Homo sapiens: one gene and its partners. The protein of the gene in region 3 purifies or fractionates together with the protein of the main gene of each other region. This does not show direct contact. Each region holds a gene or a part of one and is shown on either strand. Other genes may lie near its edges.

What was found.
Region 1: the proteins of ABLIM1 (region 3) and SCARA3 purify together in Homo sapiens (co-immunoprecipitation; one large-scale study listed by IntAct). This does not show direct contact.
Region 2: the proteins of ABLIM1 (region 3) and FAM20B purify together in Homo sapiens (co-immunoprecipitation; one large-scale study listed by IntAct). This does not show direct contact.
Region 4: the proteins of ABLIM1 (region 3) and OSBPL11 purify together in Homo sapiens (co-immunoprecipitation; one large-scale study listed by IntAct). This does not show direct contact.

The regions. Positions count from the first base shown.
Region 1 is NC_000008.11:27,636,720-27,640,641, forward strand, and holds part of SCARA3 (scavenger receptor class A member 3), read left to right. Parts: intron 1-3,922. UniProt on the Homo sapiens protein: Seems to protect cells by scavenging oxidative molecules or harmful products of oxidation.
Region 2 is NC_000001.11:179,046,110-179,050,031, forward strand, and holds part of FAM20B (glycosaminoglycan xylosylkinase), read left to right. Parts: intron 1-3,922. UniProt on the Homo sapiens protein: Responsible for the 2-O-phosphorylation of xylose in the glycosaminoglycan-protein linkage region of proteoglycans thereby regulating the amount of mature GAG chains.
Region 3 is NC_000010.11:114,570,883-114,574,804, reverse strand, and holds part of ABLIM1 (actin-binding LIM protein 1), read left to right. Parts: intron 1-3,398; coding exon 3,399-3,508; intron 3,509-3,922. UniProt on the Homo sapiens protein: May act as scaffold protein. May play a role in the development of the retina. Has been suggested to play a role in axon guidance.
Region 4 is NC_000003.12:125,529,308-125,533,229, forward strand, and holds part of OSBPL11 (oxysterol-binding protein-related protein 11), read right to left. Parts: intron 2,708-3,922; coding exon 2,554-2,707; intron 1,274-2,553; coding exon 1,208-1,273; 3' UTR 1-1,207. UniProt on the Homo sapiens protein: Plays a role in regulating ADIPOQ and FABP4 levels in differentiating adipocytes and is also involved in regulation of adipocyte triglyceride storage. Weakly binds 25-hydroxycholesterol. Interacts with OSBPL9 to function as lipid transfer proteins.

The DNA of each region.
Region 1 (3,922 bases), on a different chromosome or scaffold from region 3:
CCTCCGGAAACCCCTCAGTGATCTCCCATAACATCACAGGGGCTGCATGGGCTGCGGGGCTGGGGGCTGACTTCCAGCACTTCCCTCCCTGGCAGCCGGGAAGAGCCGCCCCTCTACCAGAGATGGAAATGGCAGGGCAGACAGCAAATAATTGGCTTCCGGGATCTGTGGGGTGTAAAGAACCAGGATTTTTCTCACTCGAGTGGAAAAAGTAAAGTGCCCGGCAGAGTAGGGCAGGCAGCCCCTTCCAGAGAACCCTTCCCGTGCTCCTCCAGAGGCCACACCAAACTTCGAATTACATCTGTTGGCAAAGGATCATGCCCTGCTCAAAACAAACACGTGATGTGATGTGATGTTGTATGGAGAACCGGTGATGGTGGGGAAGGTGATCAAGAAAACACGCTAGTCGGGCTGCCCAGCCCACCGGTGGCCGAGTGCCAGGGCCCACTCTGCCAGCCAAGCCATTTCCACCCGAGGCCCCTCCTGCCCCACGGCCAGCTGACAGGGCCTCCCAGGCCGCTGCCTCTTTTGATCCAAGCTGGCACCTGGCCCCTCTCACACGCAGCCCTAAGGGGACACTCAGGTGCCACCAGCCCCTTGGTGATAGGCCCACCTTGGAGCTTCCCACTGGCTTGTCCAAGCCATTAGCAGCCACCTGTGGGGTTGTTTCCACACTTCCAGTAAGAGTGACCCACCCCCAAGATGCCCAAGACACAGGCTGGTGCACCGTGAAGACTGATTTGAGAGTCGAAGACATGGGCTTTAGTCCCGGCCCCATCATCTGCCCTCTTCGGCCCCGTTGTCCTCCTGGGTGGTCCCTGAGGCCCAAGAGCTCTGCGCCTGAGCACCACTTGGGGAGCGGAAGTGACTCAGTGGTGAGGTGGCTGGAAGCGGGCCCACCTTGTGGCCTCTTTGCCCCGAGAGACTTCTGCTTGACTGCGGTGGCCAGGGCAGGGGGCAGCCCTCTGTTCCTCAGGCGTGGGAGAAACAACCCCTCCTTCCAGAATCAGAGAGCAGTGCCCACTTCATTTAGGCAAAGGGTGGAAGTGGGGAGAGGAGGGGCTGTGAAAACACAGCGATGCAATCCCAGGAGGAATCCGCCCTGCACCGCTCCTCTGGCCGAGAGGAGAGGATCTCCACTCATGAGCGGCCAGGCTGGGGGCCCCAGAAAGCCTGACCTCATTCCCCAGGGGCACGGGAAGGAGCCAGGGCTAGAAGAAAAGGAGCTGATGTGGTGAAGGTGAAAAGAGCCACCAGACAGCCTAACTGAGGGGTCCAGGGAGCCCAGCGGCTCAGATGTTGGAGTTCGGCTCCAAATCCTCAAACATCGGCCCCACTCCCACCCCCAGCCAAAACAGTCACTTTGCCCTCTAGCTGGGGGTAAGCCTAATAACTGAAGACTCAGGTCCCAAGGCTCATCGAGAGCGAGGAAAAAGCCTTCTGTTTCTCAGTAGGCTAGGTTGATGGATAGCTTGGCAGTTTCCGTGAAGGACAGGCAGCTGTTCTGGGTGTTAGAATTGATGTACAGGGTGGCATAGCTGGGCATGGCTCTCATACATGCACTGCCCATGTTTGATCATGTATAATTTAGTGATTGTGTGTGTGTGTGTGTGTGTGTGTGTGTGTGTAGAGCACTGAGTCCCAAGGTCAGGCCCAGCCCTGTCATAGGCCAGCTTTATCACTGGGATGAAGTCCCTGGTACTCCCTGGGGTCAGTCCCCTCATCCAGGTGGACCAGATGATCCCATGGGATGGCATCAGAGTGTAAGTTTCATGACAGTGGGGTCTCTGTCTGTTTCTGGCACTTAGGGGGTGTCCACTAAGTCTGTTCAGTGTGCACATCTGTACTGTACCATGGTATCGTCAGAACCTCACGCAGGCATTCCGTAAACATGCAGAAAGATGCCTGTATTCAACAAACAGCGATGGGGCGACTGCCAGGTGCCCGGCTCTGTATGTCTATATATGTCTAAGGACTGAGGAAGCTACAAAGAGCTCAGATGCTGCCCTTTCTCTCAGGGAGCTTACTCTTTACTAGGACACATAGGATTTGTGCCCAAGTCACTCAAAAAAAGACTAACAGTGATAAGTGTCTTAAGGGAGTTCCCAGCGAGAGAGTTTGGGGGTGGGCTGGGCTCTTTTCCTGGCTTTCCTTCTTTGCTGCTGTTCTTCGAAATGCGTCCTCGGTTTCAGCCACAGACAGGCTCCTGGTTCTTGCTGGCACCCGTTCCCTGAACAATCTCTCCCAGCCTCGAAGATGTGACATGTGGGAGCTGGCAAATCTGACGGCACCAGATTTGCCTCTCTGGGCTTCACAGCTGTATTTCCATCGGTGTCCTCAGTGTCTCCAGGTGGAGACCTGCAGGCACCTTCTTCATGGTTCAGATGAGACACCTTCCCCTTCACCTGAACCCAAGCTAAAAAATGGGTTATTCTGAGTTGTTGCCCCAGCCCACACTTTTCAGTCAGCCAACATGTATGGAGTTCCTGTTTTTAGGGAGGAAGCACGCTAGTTGGAAGGCAAGCCTGGGTGCTTTCTGCCCTCCCAGCAGAAATAAGACGTGCACACCTGAGACGAGAACCGAATCATCCAGGCAGATGCCACAAAAGAACAAATGCACGGCATATACGGGAGATTGGATGGGAATCCCGGGAGAGAAAGGGAGCATTTCAAGTTGGGCAGTTCAGAAAGGCTTCAGGGAGGAGCTGAAGGGTGGGGAGGAGTTGGATGGGGTCAGTGAAGAGGGCAGGAAGGAGTGCTGGGAAAAGTTGGACAGCAGGTCCTGGGGGAAGAGTGTTTGGTGGTGGGGGAGAGAGATGGCCTGCAGTTGAGGGAGCCCTAAGCCAGAAAGGACCTGAGTGCTCCATAAAGGACACGCGGTTGTGTCTGGTTGACATTGGAGAGACCTGGGAGGGTTTGTCAGGAGAAGGCCTATTTGCCACTTGCCCCTGGAGATATTCTCTCGTGGCCTTAGCCCATGTTGAGAAACCTCTACTTTTAGAGAGTGGGAGGAAGAAAATGAGCTTGTAAAGGAGCCAAGAGGAGCAGTCCAGGACACAGGCAGAGAACCATGATGGTAATGTCATGGAAATTGAGAGGAGAAAGTTCCAAGGGGGAGGAAATGACCCACCGCGTTGACTGCTGATCAGCAGAGTTAGCTCAGGATTCATGGATCAGAGAAGGCCAGGTTGCAAGGGCCAGAGGGGCTGAGTGGATCAGAAGCAAAGGCGCAGGAGGAGCTGTGTCCTTAGAGTGGGAGGCAGGGCCCAGCTCAAAGGATTTCAAGGCAGGGATGGCCCGTGCTCATTGGGAGGGGGAGGGACAGAAGAGGCATGGGGGGACTTGGGGACAGAGCGGTGGAATTGAGGGAGACTTGCTTTGAGAAGAAAGAATCTCTTTATCGGGAGGCAAGGGAAGGAGAAAAGATGGTTACAGACATAGACTCTGCATTACGAGCAGCTGCATTTAACCTTTTTATAACACATTTATTATTTTTTTAAAAATCAAAAAATTCCAAAAAGGAAAAACATTCACTCACGTGAACTCCTGCCCTGTAGAGATAATAAATGACAAAATGTAGATGAACATTCTTCAGAAATCATTCTGTGTATGTTTGCACAGATTTTTTTCATGTAGATAAGATTACACTATCCATGTTATTTTTATTTTTATTTTATTTTACTTTGAGACATAGTCTCACTCTGTGCCCAGGCTGGAGTGCAGTGGTACCATTGTAGGTTACTGCAGCCTTGACCTCCTGGGCTCAAGGATCCTCCCAGCCTCCCAAGTAGCTGGGACTATAAGCAGGTGCCACCATGCCCAGCTAATTTTTGTATTATTTGTAGAGATGAAGTCTCGCTATGTTGCCCAGGCTGGTCTCAAGCTCCCGACCTCAAGCAATCCTCCCTCCTCAGCCTCCCGA
Region 2 (3,922 bases), on a different chromosome or scaffold from region 3:
CACCTCACATCAATCAGTGGTACAGAAGTTTGAACCCATATTTGTTAGAGTTGTAAACAGCTTGTATTCTGCCACACACATGGAATTCTCTAAGTTTGTTTGCTTCCCATAAGTGATGACGTGGAGCACTCATCATCAAAAATCGCATTTAGCTTTGAAGTTTGGTCTTTGACTTCTTGGCCTGAGAGATAAGCAGCATAAACAGAGTAATGGAAAAAGGCAAACTAAAGACAAAAATAAAATTTGTATATAAAGAGATGGCCGGGCACGGTGGCTCACGCCTGTAATCCCAGCACTTTGGGAGGCCAAGGTGGGCGGATCACTTGACGTCAGGAGTTTGAGACCAGCCTGGCCAACATGGCGAAACCCCATCTCTACTAAAAATACAAAAAATTAGCCGGGCGTTTTGGTATGTGCCTGTAATCCTAGCTACTCAGGAGTCTGAGGCAGGAGAATCACTTGAACCTGGGAGGCGAAGGTTGCGGTGAGCTGAGATTGCACCATTGCACTGCAGCCTGGGCAACAAGAGCAAAACTCCATCTCAAAAACGTAAAATAAAATAAATAAAGAGATGAGTTGTGAGCATTTTGTGTTTAAATAAGAGGAGATCTGGCTGGGTGCGGTGGCTCATGCCTGTAATCCTAGCACTTTGGGAGGCCGAGGCGGGCGGATCACCTGAGGTCAGGAGTTCGAGACCAGCCTGGCTAACATGCTGAAACCCCGTTTCTACTAAAAATACAAAAAATTAGCTAGGCACGTGCCTGTAATCCCAGCTACTCGGAAGGCTGAGGCAGGAGAATCGCTTGAACCCGGAGGCGGAGGTTGTAGTGAGCCGAGATCACGCCATTGCACTCCAGCCTGGGCAACAGGAGCGAAACTCCGTCTCAAAAAAAAAGAGATCCTCATCACACCTACCACTTGTACACTGGAGAATTGAAGGGGAGTTGGGACAGCAGGAAGTGTGTTAGAAGACAGATATTCCCAAGAGCGTGCAGTGTTAGACCAGGTGCTTTGCAGGATAGGCCTGAAATGTTCAGACAAGATATAAGTGGTGGGAGGAGAGGCCAGACTGATGAGTAGGGGAGGTAGTAACAGATAATGCATAACCTTAGTCACTTCTTGCTTCATCTTATATCTCTTACTACCACTGCAGCCTTCTCATTACCTCCCTCCTCCAGACCATCCTGGAAACCACTTCCGTTCTTCCCCGTTCTTCCCCAGAAGACTTATTATCACTATGTTCCCCAGCTTTAAAACATCCAGGGACTTCCCATTGCCCACCAGACAAAACCCAGCCTCCACAGCCTAAGGTCAAGCCCCTGACTGTCTGGTCCTCCTCTCTATACTCAGCCTTATCTTCCTTTTGCTCTTTGTTTCTGTCAAACTCTGGCCCCCTGCTCCCGCATCATCTCCTAAACAGCCTGTGTCCACTCCCAGCAACAGGGCACTCTCTTCTCCAACTCAGCAAGGTTTTTTTTGGCCCCTGCCATAGGTGCTAACTCTCTTAGTCACTGCACATACTGACCTGTGCTGCTTTATATCAGGAAATATCACAGGCTGGGGAAAGTGGTTGTAAGTTTAAGTGCTTGCAGAAATTGACTCCAGTCCCTAAACACCCAGCAAAATGCTGTTCTGACCCCCAGGGCTTCAGAGGCTATTTATTTAGTCCTGGTGTAAGTGCAAATTAATGTCCTTGGTCATACTCTGATGTCCTTCAGCAGAAGGATAGGAATGATTTATTGGCAGTTACTGTATGAATTTTGCTGCTCTGTCAGTGACTTAAGATGGATCACTCTCTGGTAAGAGAAGAATCTAAGTCCTTTCTCTGAAAGCCACTTGTGGTTTTAACATTTCTGGAGCCTGATTATCCATGTCCTGCTCTCAGAGATACAAGGTGTGTGCAGTATAGGTAGATGATATATATGGGAATAGAGTGACACTTTTATTTACACATTTTGCCTTACATTATAAGTAAAGGTGATTTTTTTTTTAATGTAGCTATTTCCATTCTAGAAGTAATTGATTTTCACAGGCAAAAACAGCAGTTATGTTGGAAAAAGAACAAGAAGGCAGGGGCCTAGAAGCGCGTAGAAGTGAATGAGTAATCTCAGGAAGTACTAAAAGGGACCTTGGAGATCAGCTAGTCCAACTGTCCATTTTACAGGTGAGAAAAATGAGATCCAGAATTCTGATTTTCCATATTTCACATAACCAAAACATGAGCTGAGGATTCAGGCCTGACTTCAGTGTAGTTCTTTTGATTCTTATTCCTTTTCTCTTCCCTCCATCTTTTCCTCTCCTGCCCACTCCCAAAGTTCCTGTATTCCTCTAAGCTTTTGCATTTTACTCTGCGCAGCCTTTAGATGGATTGGAAAGCTCTCTAATGTTTCACTGAAAGGACCATACTGCACTTCACCACATACCTTCCTGTGGCTGCCCTGAAGTACTAAAAATAAAGTATTCAAGGATAGCCTACATCTGTAGTAGAACAGTACCTGAATAGTGTCAGCTTTTTGCTGCAGGGGTATTTCAAATTTGACTTTTAATTTAGAGGTAGCTAATATAAACCTTTTAAAAAATTATTCCTAAGTAATCCTTTGCACTAGGAACAAACAAACAAAAAATTACATTTGGGTATATTGACCATGCTAAGAAGAAACTGGTGCCCAACCAGAAGGTGATACATGGCTGTCTTCTAACAAATGCTTCATCATTTTGCCTTGAAGATATATTTTGTGGATATGATTTCACTTTATATTCTAAGGTCATTTAAGTTGAAGTTCACTGCCTTTTATAGTACTGTTTTCCACTTCCCTATTGCTGTTTTAGCATGAGAGAGCCAACTATCCTTAGTGGAACCTCTCTTCTCCACATCACTCTCAATTTATTTCTATTTCATAGGTCCATTGTAAAGCCTAAAAGGTCTCCTTTAGATTCAGGAAATGCAGGAGACCAATAGAGAGGACATAGGTGAATTAAGTACTTTTTTCTTCCTAATTAACAGATTTAAATTCTATCTTTTAAAATGGTTAGTAGAAAGAAATATGCCAGTCTTCATTATCCTTTGCTTATGTCATACATGTGATAGAAAATCATCAGAATGCAGTCTGAGATGAAAGAGACCTTAGAAATTACCTCCTAGTCCAGCCCCTAATATTGTAAGTAAGGAATCTGAGACCCAGAGAAGAGAAAGGTTTTGCTCAAGCTTACCCAGTCAAGTAATGACAGCCACACCAACCTCCCACTGCCAGTCCAGGACTCCTTGTAGTACGTCATCATAAACTTAAAAAAAAAGAACAAGAATGGTTATTCAAACAACTTTTTTCAAAAGCGCTGTTGCCTTCCCATTAACAAAGATTGAGTTATATCAGACTATTTTCCCCCAAATTTAAATTTCTCTTATAAGCTTTGCCACAGCCATTCTGGTAAGCAAAAGTTTTTTGTTTTTTGAGACAGAGCCTCACTCTGTTGCCCAGGCTGGAGTGCAGTGGCACAGTCTCGGCTCACTGCAACCTCCGCCTCCCAGGTTCAAGCGATTCTCCTGACTCAGCCTCCTGAGCAGCTGGGATTACAGGCATTCACCACCACACCCAGGTAATTTTGGTGTTTTTTAGTAGAGATGGGGTTTCGCCATGTTGGCCAGGCTGTTCTCGAACTACCGACCTCAGGTGATCCACCCATCTTGGCCTGCCAAAGTGCTGGGATTACAGGTGTGAGCCACCGTGCCTGGCCAGCAAAAGTTTTAATTACACATTTTTCTTCATTTCTTCAGGTCAGTCTAATAAACATTTTAGTAGACATTTATTAAGCACCAACTATGTGCTTAACACTGTGCTGGCAATACAAAGACAGTCCTTGCCTTCCAGAAAACTACCTTTTATCTGTACTAAAACTACATCAAAAGCCCTTTAGTGGGGCAAAA
Region 3 (3,922 bases):
ATCTGTCATCTACCAAGGTTGTATCTTAACTGTGCAAACCAGCTTGATTAAAATGATCAGTCAGGCTGGGCGTGGTGGCTCACCCTTATAATCCCAGCACTTTGGGAGGCCGAGGCAGGTACATCACCTGAGCTCAAGAGTTTGAGACCAGCCTGGCCAACATGGTGAAACCCTGTCTCTACTAAAAATACAAAAAAATTAGCCAGGCGAGGTGGCAGGTGCCTGTAATCTCAGCTGCTTGGGAGGCTGAGGCAGGAGAATGGCTTGAACCCGGGAGGCGGAGGTTGCAGTGAGCCGAGATCGTGCCACTGCACTCCAATCTGGGTGACACAGCAAGACTCCATCTCAAAAAAAATAAAATAAAATAAATAATAAAATGATCAGTCAGAGAACAAGAAAACTATGTGAAGTGTGAGTGGGAAAATGTGGGGCTTTTTGTGGTTTTTGTGTTTTGAGGTCTGCATGTTATAAAACTTAAGATAGGTTTGATTCCTGTAACTAGGAGACTCACCACCAAGGGTCAGCTGCTTTATTGATCAATTCTAATTTGGCAATTTTGCAATCCAGTGCCTTTTCAAGTGGAGATCTATTTGCTATGCCTTTCTAAAAACCCCAATTCAGAGGAGACGTGTTGTCTGTTTTTCAGCATTGTATGTTTCTAAGCCAGAGAGATGTAAGCTCTAGAAGGGAAGATTCAATATTGTGTAATTAATTAACAAGATAATACTGATAAATCATAATAAGACACAAAATATTCATAATAAAATTATTTAAATAACTTTATAGCTATGTATTAGCTCATTTCTCTATTTCATTTTTTTAAATCATAATTTAATAATTCTGGATGAATGAACTGAATATTTTTCTGTATTTAATCAAAAGCAAAGTTCTGCCCTGATTTTTCCCTTTTCAGGCTGTGGCACACAGCCTGGTTAAGAGTCCTGGGCTGGCATGGAGCCCCAAGTCCCAGTCTTACTTCCCAGGTTGAATTGAGACCTATGTGATTTAGCTTTTTCCAGACAATTGCCTCCACCTTAGAATGAGAAGCTGTGAACTAGATGCGAGTCATTTTTCAAGCCTCGCTCATCACTGGAATCTCCTGGATGGGTGGGAGTGGACTAGAGATGGGAGTCTCTCCACAAAGATCAATTTCTAGCCTATTTTCCCCCAAAACCTGCATGCTAATTTAGTAGTTTCTGGAGGGTTCTCATGTATGTTGTCAGTCAGCCAGGTTGGAAGGCCGTGTTCCCAGTAAACTCTAAGAGCCCTTCTGATCCTGACCCTGAGAGGTCATTGCTTTGAAGTTGGTATAATGATAAAAAACGATTTATTAACTATGGCCCTGTCCCTGGACATTTGAGCCAGCAAAGGAGCACTTACTGCTACTGCCTCTACTGCTGCCGAATGACGATAATTCTGTCTGAATTGGGGCCTCCTTTTTAGTTGAGAAGTTATATTCATACAGAAGTTAATTTCACCCTCTTAGCAATTCTTTGAAGGGAACCAGGAGTTAATATCTCTATTTATGAGTGACTTTGAGGCTCACGGTTTAAGGGACATTCCCAAGTTAACGTTAGAACTCAGGTTTTCTAACTCTAAATCCAGGTCTCTTTCTATTATAAACATTCATGCAAATAAAAGAAGGAAGTTATCCAGTATGGGCAGAGGATATAGGGAGGGAGGAAATTACTGAAAAGGGCCATTTACAAAACAACAAAACCCACCCTTCAGAAGGCCCAGCCCAAGTTGAGAACTGGATTCTGGCTTGTCCCATAGAGGATTCGTGTGGGACTTGGGTCTAAAATAATAAGCTTGGATGGGAAGGAAGGCTTGGGCTTGGGTGGGGTAAGCGAGGTGCCTCTGGGCATGCAACAGGTAAAGGGCACTTATTCTCAGGGTCCTGCAAGTGCAGGGTCAGCCACGGAGCACGAGTGCCTCTTTAAACGCTGTGTCTGGGTCCACTCCTGGCCTGGTCGGAGGCAAAAGAACCTGTGCGTGTTGTGTTGAATGGATCCTTAACTTCCTGACTCCCTCCTTACAGAACAGATTTAAGACTTGTTCAGGTTTAGCTAATGAGTGTGAAGCAGTAGGGCTACTGGCATCCAGCAGAGGGTGATTTTTGATTCTTAAAAATAAAACAAGTTCTAAGTTGGTGGATGCCATCTGCACCTGCCTATGGCTTGATCTCCCTAGCTGGTCAGTCCAGGCATGTCACTTCACCTCTCTGAGCCTTCACTGTACTGCCGAAAGTGACACAGCATCACAAGTGGAGAGGACACCACCTCTCCTCGGGACTTCTAAAATGTAAGGGTGTAAGAATTTAAAACTCTCTGTGATGACTGGAGCCAGCCACATTTGTGGGGTTAACTCCAAATTTACCTATATGTTGTTTATTACAGTTAATTGCCAATTGTTAGGCTACTGAGGGGCAACTTAAAGGGAATGTAGCAGCTGTGGAAGTAAAAATGAATGTCAAAAAGCTGGTACTTGCTCTTAAGTAATTGCTTCTAACTAAGATTTGTGGTGATGTTCAGCTTGTGAGTTTCACGTTTCCTAATTGGCAGCATCACACATTTGAAAAATCACTTTAATGAAGATTATTGGTACATAGGCCAAGGGCAAGTGAGTGGGCATGGAAACTGTCATATGTCTGTTCATTAATGACTTGTTTAAAGGGCTCTCTGCCTGGTGACCTGGGAGAAGAAACTGATTATCTACATGCAGAAGGCAATATTTTTGCAAAATGTGCTGCTATTGATGAATATCTACTATGAAGAGAAATTGTCTTTCTGAAAAGAAGCTAATATGAATTCTTAAACAGATATTTACAGCCTGTCCCATTTCTCCCAGTTTATAAGGGACTGGGTCTCCAGCACCATGAAACGTTCCGTTCACCCATGTAGGTGTCCAGCACAAAGTCTAATCCTGCATAATCATCACAGAGGTCTAGGCACGGTCCCAGGGAACTGAAAGACCCACTGCTTACTGCTTGACCTGTAGCCAGGTCTCCTGGGGCAGGGCCTTAAGCTTCACTGGGAATTCATGGTATTTAAAATATTTTTTCATGAAGGACTTTCCATTTGGAAACTTACTGTTCTGTGTGCCCTGCTAGATCACTTGCTGGAATATCCCTTCACTAATGAATGGAGGTAAATCATTCCATTTTACTACCTGGTTGCCCTTAGAACCAGTACATTCCCCTTTCTTCTCAAAATGAGGCACATTTATTTGTTTGGACTGTCTCCAGCTGGCTGGCTTGGTTATGACTGCATTTCAGACATGTTGGCTGCTGCTTCTCCAAGAAATAAATGGGCACCGGAGGGCAGCAAGCAGAAGGAATAAGGAAAAGGAATGAAATTGCTGCAATAACCTTGAGGGCGATGTCTTTCTGCCTCCAGGCGCCCGTTTCCACCCGGAGACCGAGTCACATTCAATGGGAGAGACTGCCTTTGTCAACTCTGTGCACAGCCGATGTCGTCCAGTCCGAAAGAAACCACCTTCTCCAGCAGTAAGTGCCCCGGTGACCCACTGACGTGAATACCTATGTAGTCCAGAGGTAGCTCAGGCAGGTGCCTTCCTTTTTGAGAAACGCTGTTAGCTGGAAATGAGAGTCATCTATCTACTTGAATAGATATTTCTCCAAAGATGACATTAAAATGGCCAACAGGTACATGAAAAGGTGCTCAATGTTATAAGTCATCAGGGAAATGCAAATCAAAACAACCATAAGATACCAACTTATACCTGTTAAGATAGCTATTATGAAAAAGACAGGAGATGACGAGCATCAGCCTAGGTGTGGAGAAAAGGGAGCCCTTGAACACTGTTGGTAGGAATGTAGATTCTTGACGTAGGCATCATGGAAAACAGCATGGAGGCTCCTAAAGAAATTAAAAATAGGCCAGGTGTGGTGGCTTATGCC
Region 4 (3,922 bases), on a different chromosome or scaffold from region 3:
TCTATTCTTTTAATTGCCAGCAATTCTTCAACCTCAACAAAATACTTATTTAAAAAAAGATTTGTACCTGAATACAACTTCCTGATCTTTTTTTCCTGATACCTTTTCATTTCGTTGTTTCTTTAGCATTTAAATTTCCTCAAAAAAAAAAAAAATAAATAAAACCATACCTTACATGCGCGTTCAGTTACACATATAAGTTTTGAATTACTGACAAATATGAATAGAATCATTTATTTTAATTTTTAACAGAGGTAAAATAAAGCATACTTATCCAAAGGGATAACACATAATACTGGATATTAACCTAAAGGTGAAAAGAAAGAAGGAAAAAAGTAACAGTTTTATTTTTTAATATTTGCTATTTTCTTTAATGCCTTAGTTCTGGAGAAAGGCTAAAATCTCATCATATTGACATTAACACATTTTTAAAAAGTGTCTCTCAAGTGTAATATTTAATAAAACTAGGTACTGAAAAATGTTCTGAAATTTTTCAAGTCAATGTTGTTTTCAAGTATATTAAAATGCTCAGAAGAAAAAATTCTCCATGGTTATAATTCTGATCAATCTATAAATGTACTTTTTAAAAGAGAGTTCCAACAGAGGTGGATAATAGGTAAGTTCCTCAGACACAGGCATACAGTCTTTTTGAAGAAATAGAATGCCTTGTTACCACAACCTGGTTGATTTTTTTTTTTAAACACTGATTTCAGGCACAATGGCTGAATCCACTTCTGGGTCATCTTTCTCCTCCTCTTGGTTGGTTTACAAGAGTAGTGAATACTTCAGTTATGGACAGAAAGAAAGACACAAACTCTGAAACGGAGACTTCACTTTTCACTACAAAGAAATCAAAGTCACTGAGTTCTCATTGTTGTGTGTATCTGCTGCCCCTGTGCAAAAATAGGGGATTCAAACTTAACTTTAGGAGCAAGAACTGGATAAAAGATTCATCTACTGATTCAGGTAACAAGTTTTAAGATGGTATTGCTCACATCACATGAACAGGTTGGTAAAAGGTCCACTGTGTTTCTTTACCACTTTGGTCTTGCTGCAGTATTATGGTGCCCTAGTAGGTACATTCAGGTTTAGCTAGTTTCAGTCTGCGCAATCAGGAAGCAGGTCACTCAGTGCAATGACTCCATTCTGGGAGGATTTAGGGTAAACAGAGAAGAACCTCATTTGGTCGAGTTTTAGATAGTATGTGTCACTCTGCTGGTTGTGTTGTTGGAATTATTTTCCAAAGTGGTTTATGATAAACCCAGCCATCTCCCTGAAACAAATAAAAAGATAAAGAATCATCCCTCTAATATTATCAAAATCAGTAACCAAAACTAGAAGCAACACCTTCACTGAAATGGAATTCTATTTTCACATTCAAAAACAAGTTTTTGTGAAGGAATAAAGTCTTTGTGATTAAGACATCAAACGATGCCTGTGGTTTAGCTAGGATTTAGGTGAGAAGACATGGTATGGGAGGATCTAGTTTGTGACCCATGAACATTTAATTTTGCAAGAACCATTTGTAGCAATTTTGCCAATTTCGCCAAGATGCTACAGATTGAGCCTCACTCACAGAGTTATGGGCAGCAGGTGGAGTACAGAGAAATGATCGGGAAGGTACTAACTGTTCTCCCTGTCTCCACTGGCACCCCAGAACTCATTTTTTTTCTTTCCTTTTTTTTTTCCCCCAAGACGGAGTCTTGCTCTGTCAGCCAGGCTGGAGTGCAGTGGCACAATCTTGGCTCACTGCAACCTCCGCCTCCCTGGTTTAAGCAATTCTCCTGTCTCAGCCTCCCAAGTAGCTGGGATTACAGGCACGTGCCATACCCGGCTAATTTTTGTATTTTTAGTAGAGATGGGGGTTTCACCATGTTGGCCAGGCTGGTCTGAAACTCCTGACCTCATGATCCGCCCGCCTCGGCCTCCCAAAGTGCTGGGATTACAGACGTGAGCCACCGCGCCAGGCCCCCCAGCTCATTTTTCTTTTTTTTTTTTTTGGAGACAGAGTTTCACTCTTGTTGCCCAGGCTGGAGTGCAATGGCGCAATCTTGGCTCACTGCAACCTCCGCCTCCTGGGTTCAAGCAATTCTCCTGTCTCAGCCTCCCGAGTAGCTGGGATTACAGGCATGTACCACCACACCTGGCTAATGTTGTATTTTTAGTAGAGACTGGGTTTCTCCATGTTGGTCAGGCTGGTCTCGAACTCCTGACCTCAGGTGATCCGCCTGCCTCGGCCTCGCAAAGTACTGGGATTACAGGCATGAGCCACCGAGCCCGGCCACCCCCTAGCTCATTTTTAATGATATATAGATGTTCTCACTTAGAAACTCTTCTTTCTTAGAATCTGTTCTTGGTATATCTGCCTTTTTTTTGAGACAGAGTCTTGCTATAGGTTACCCAGGCTGGTCTCAAAAACAGTTGGTATTTATATACAGCCATACTACTTTTAAAAATAAAGATGTATAAGTGATAGCAATTCAACAAAGCCTAGTAAGCTAAAGTTCTCAGCCAAGTAGATACATTTTTATCTTGAACACATGTACAGCATACCTCTTTAATAAAATATTTGGTTTTCCAAGGTGTGCCTGTTTCAGTACGATGCCTTTCTTCAGTCCTCTGACGTTCTTCCAGGGTATGCTTATGCTCTGTGGCCTTATCAATTTCAGATTCTCTCAGCGAGTCTGTCACATTTTTCCACAATCGCCTGAAATCCAAAAACCACACATTTTACAAGCATTCTTTAAAAGAGATAATTAAATAGAATCAATACCCTCAAAATTACAATAATTTTATAAAATAACGTTTCCTAAATCACATCTACAATGTCATGCTTATGAATTCCAAGAATAACGATACTGTGCTGCTGATGGTTATGTCCAGGATGCTGCTCCTTCTGCTTCTTTTTAAATTAAAAATAATTTGTATTTTTCCAGGTTATAAAAGCAGGATTTTTTGTTTTTAGAAAACTTAGAAATTAACGAGTAAAAAGAGAAGTAAATTTTCAAAGTTGAAATGTAAGCAAGACTAATTGTGCTTCTGGACATGATGAAATAATGGGGAACACATTTATTTTCCTGCCTTCATCAACCAGGAAACCAGGCAACATATAATACAATAGTGGTTTTCAGATACTGAGCAAAAGGCAGTGCAGGGCAGTGATCCTTGAGAAAGGAAACAAATGAGGGGAGTCCTATGAGTGCTCTAACTCGCTGTCCAGAGTGTTTCTAGGCCACGCACAGGGAGAGGGAAGCTTAACAAATCTCAAGCAAAAAAAAAAAAAAACAAAAAAAAACTGCCACAACACTTCTTTAGGGAAAGAACTGTTTGTTGAACAAATGGTGCTGGGACAACTGGATATACATGTGAAAAAAATGTAGTAAGTTAAACATAAAACTACCATAAACCCAGCAATTCCACTCCTGGGTATTTACCCAAGAAAAATGAAAATAAATGTCCATACAAAGACTTGTAGGAGAATGTTCACAGCAGTATTATGGATAGGCAAAATGTGATATATCCATACAGTGCAATACTATTCAGCAATAAAAAGCAATGAACCACTGATACATGCAATTAATACTTCATGGATGAACCTCAAAAACGTTATACTAAGGAAATAAGCCAGGCATAAGAGATCACACATTGTATGATTTATATGAAATATCCAGAAAAGGCAAATTTATAGAGACAGAAAGTTAGTGGTTCTCTGGGCTGGGGGTAATGGGGATTAACTGTAAATGAACAAGAGAGATCTTACGGTAGGATGAAAATATTCTAAAACTTATTTATGGTAATGACTGTACTACTCGAGAAAGTTACTAAACATCTGTTTTTTCTTTCTTTCTTCCTTTCTTTCCTCCCCCCTTCCTTCTCTTCCTCCCCTTCCCTCCCTCCCTTCTCTCTCCCTCCCTCCCTCTTT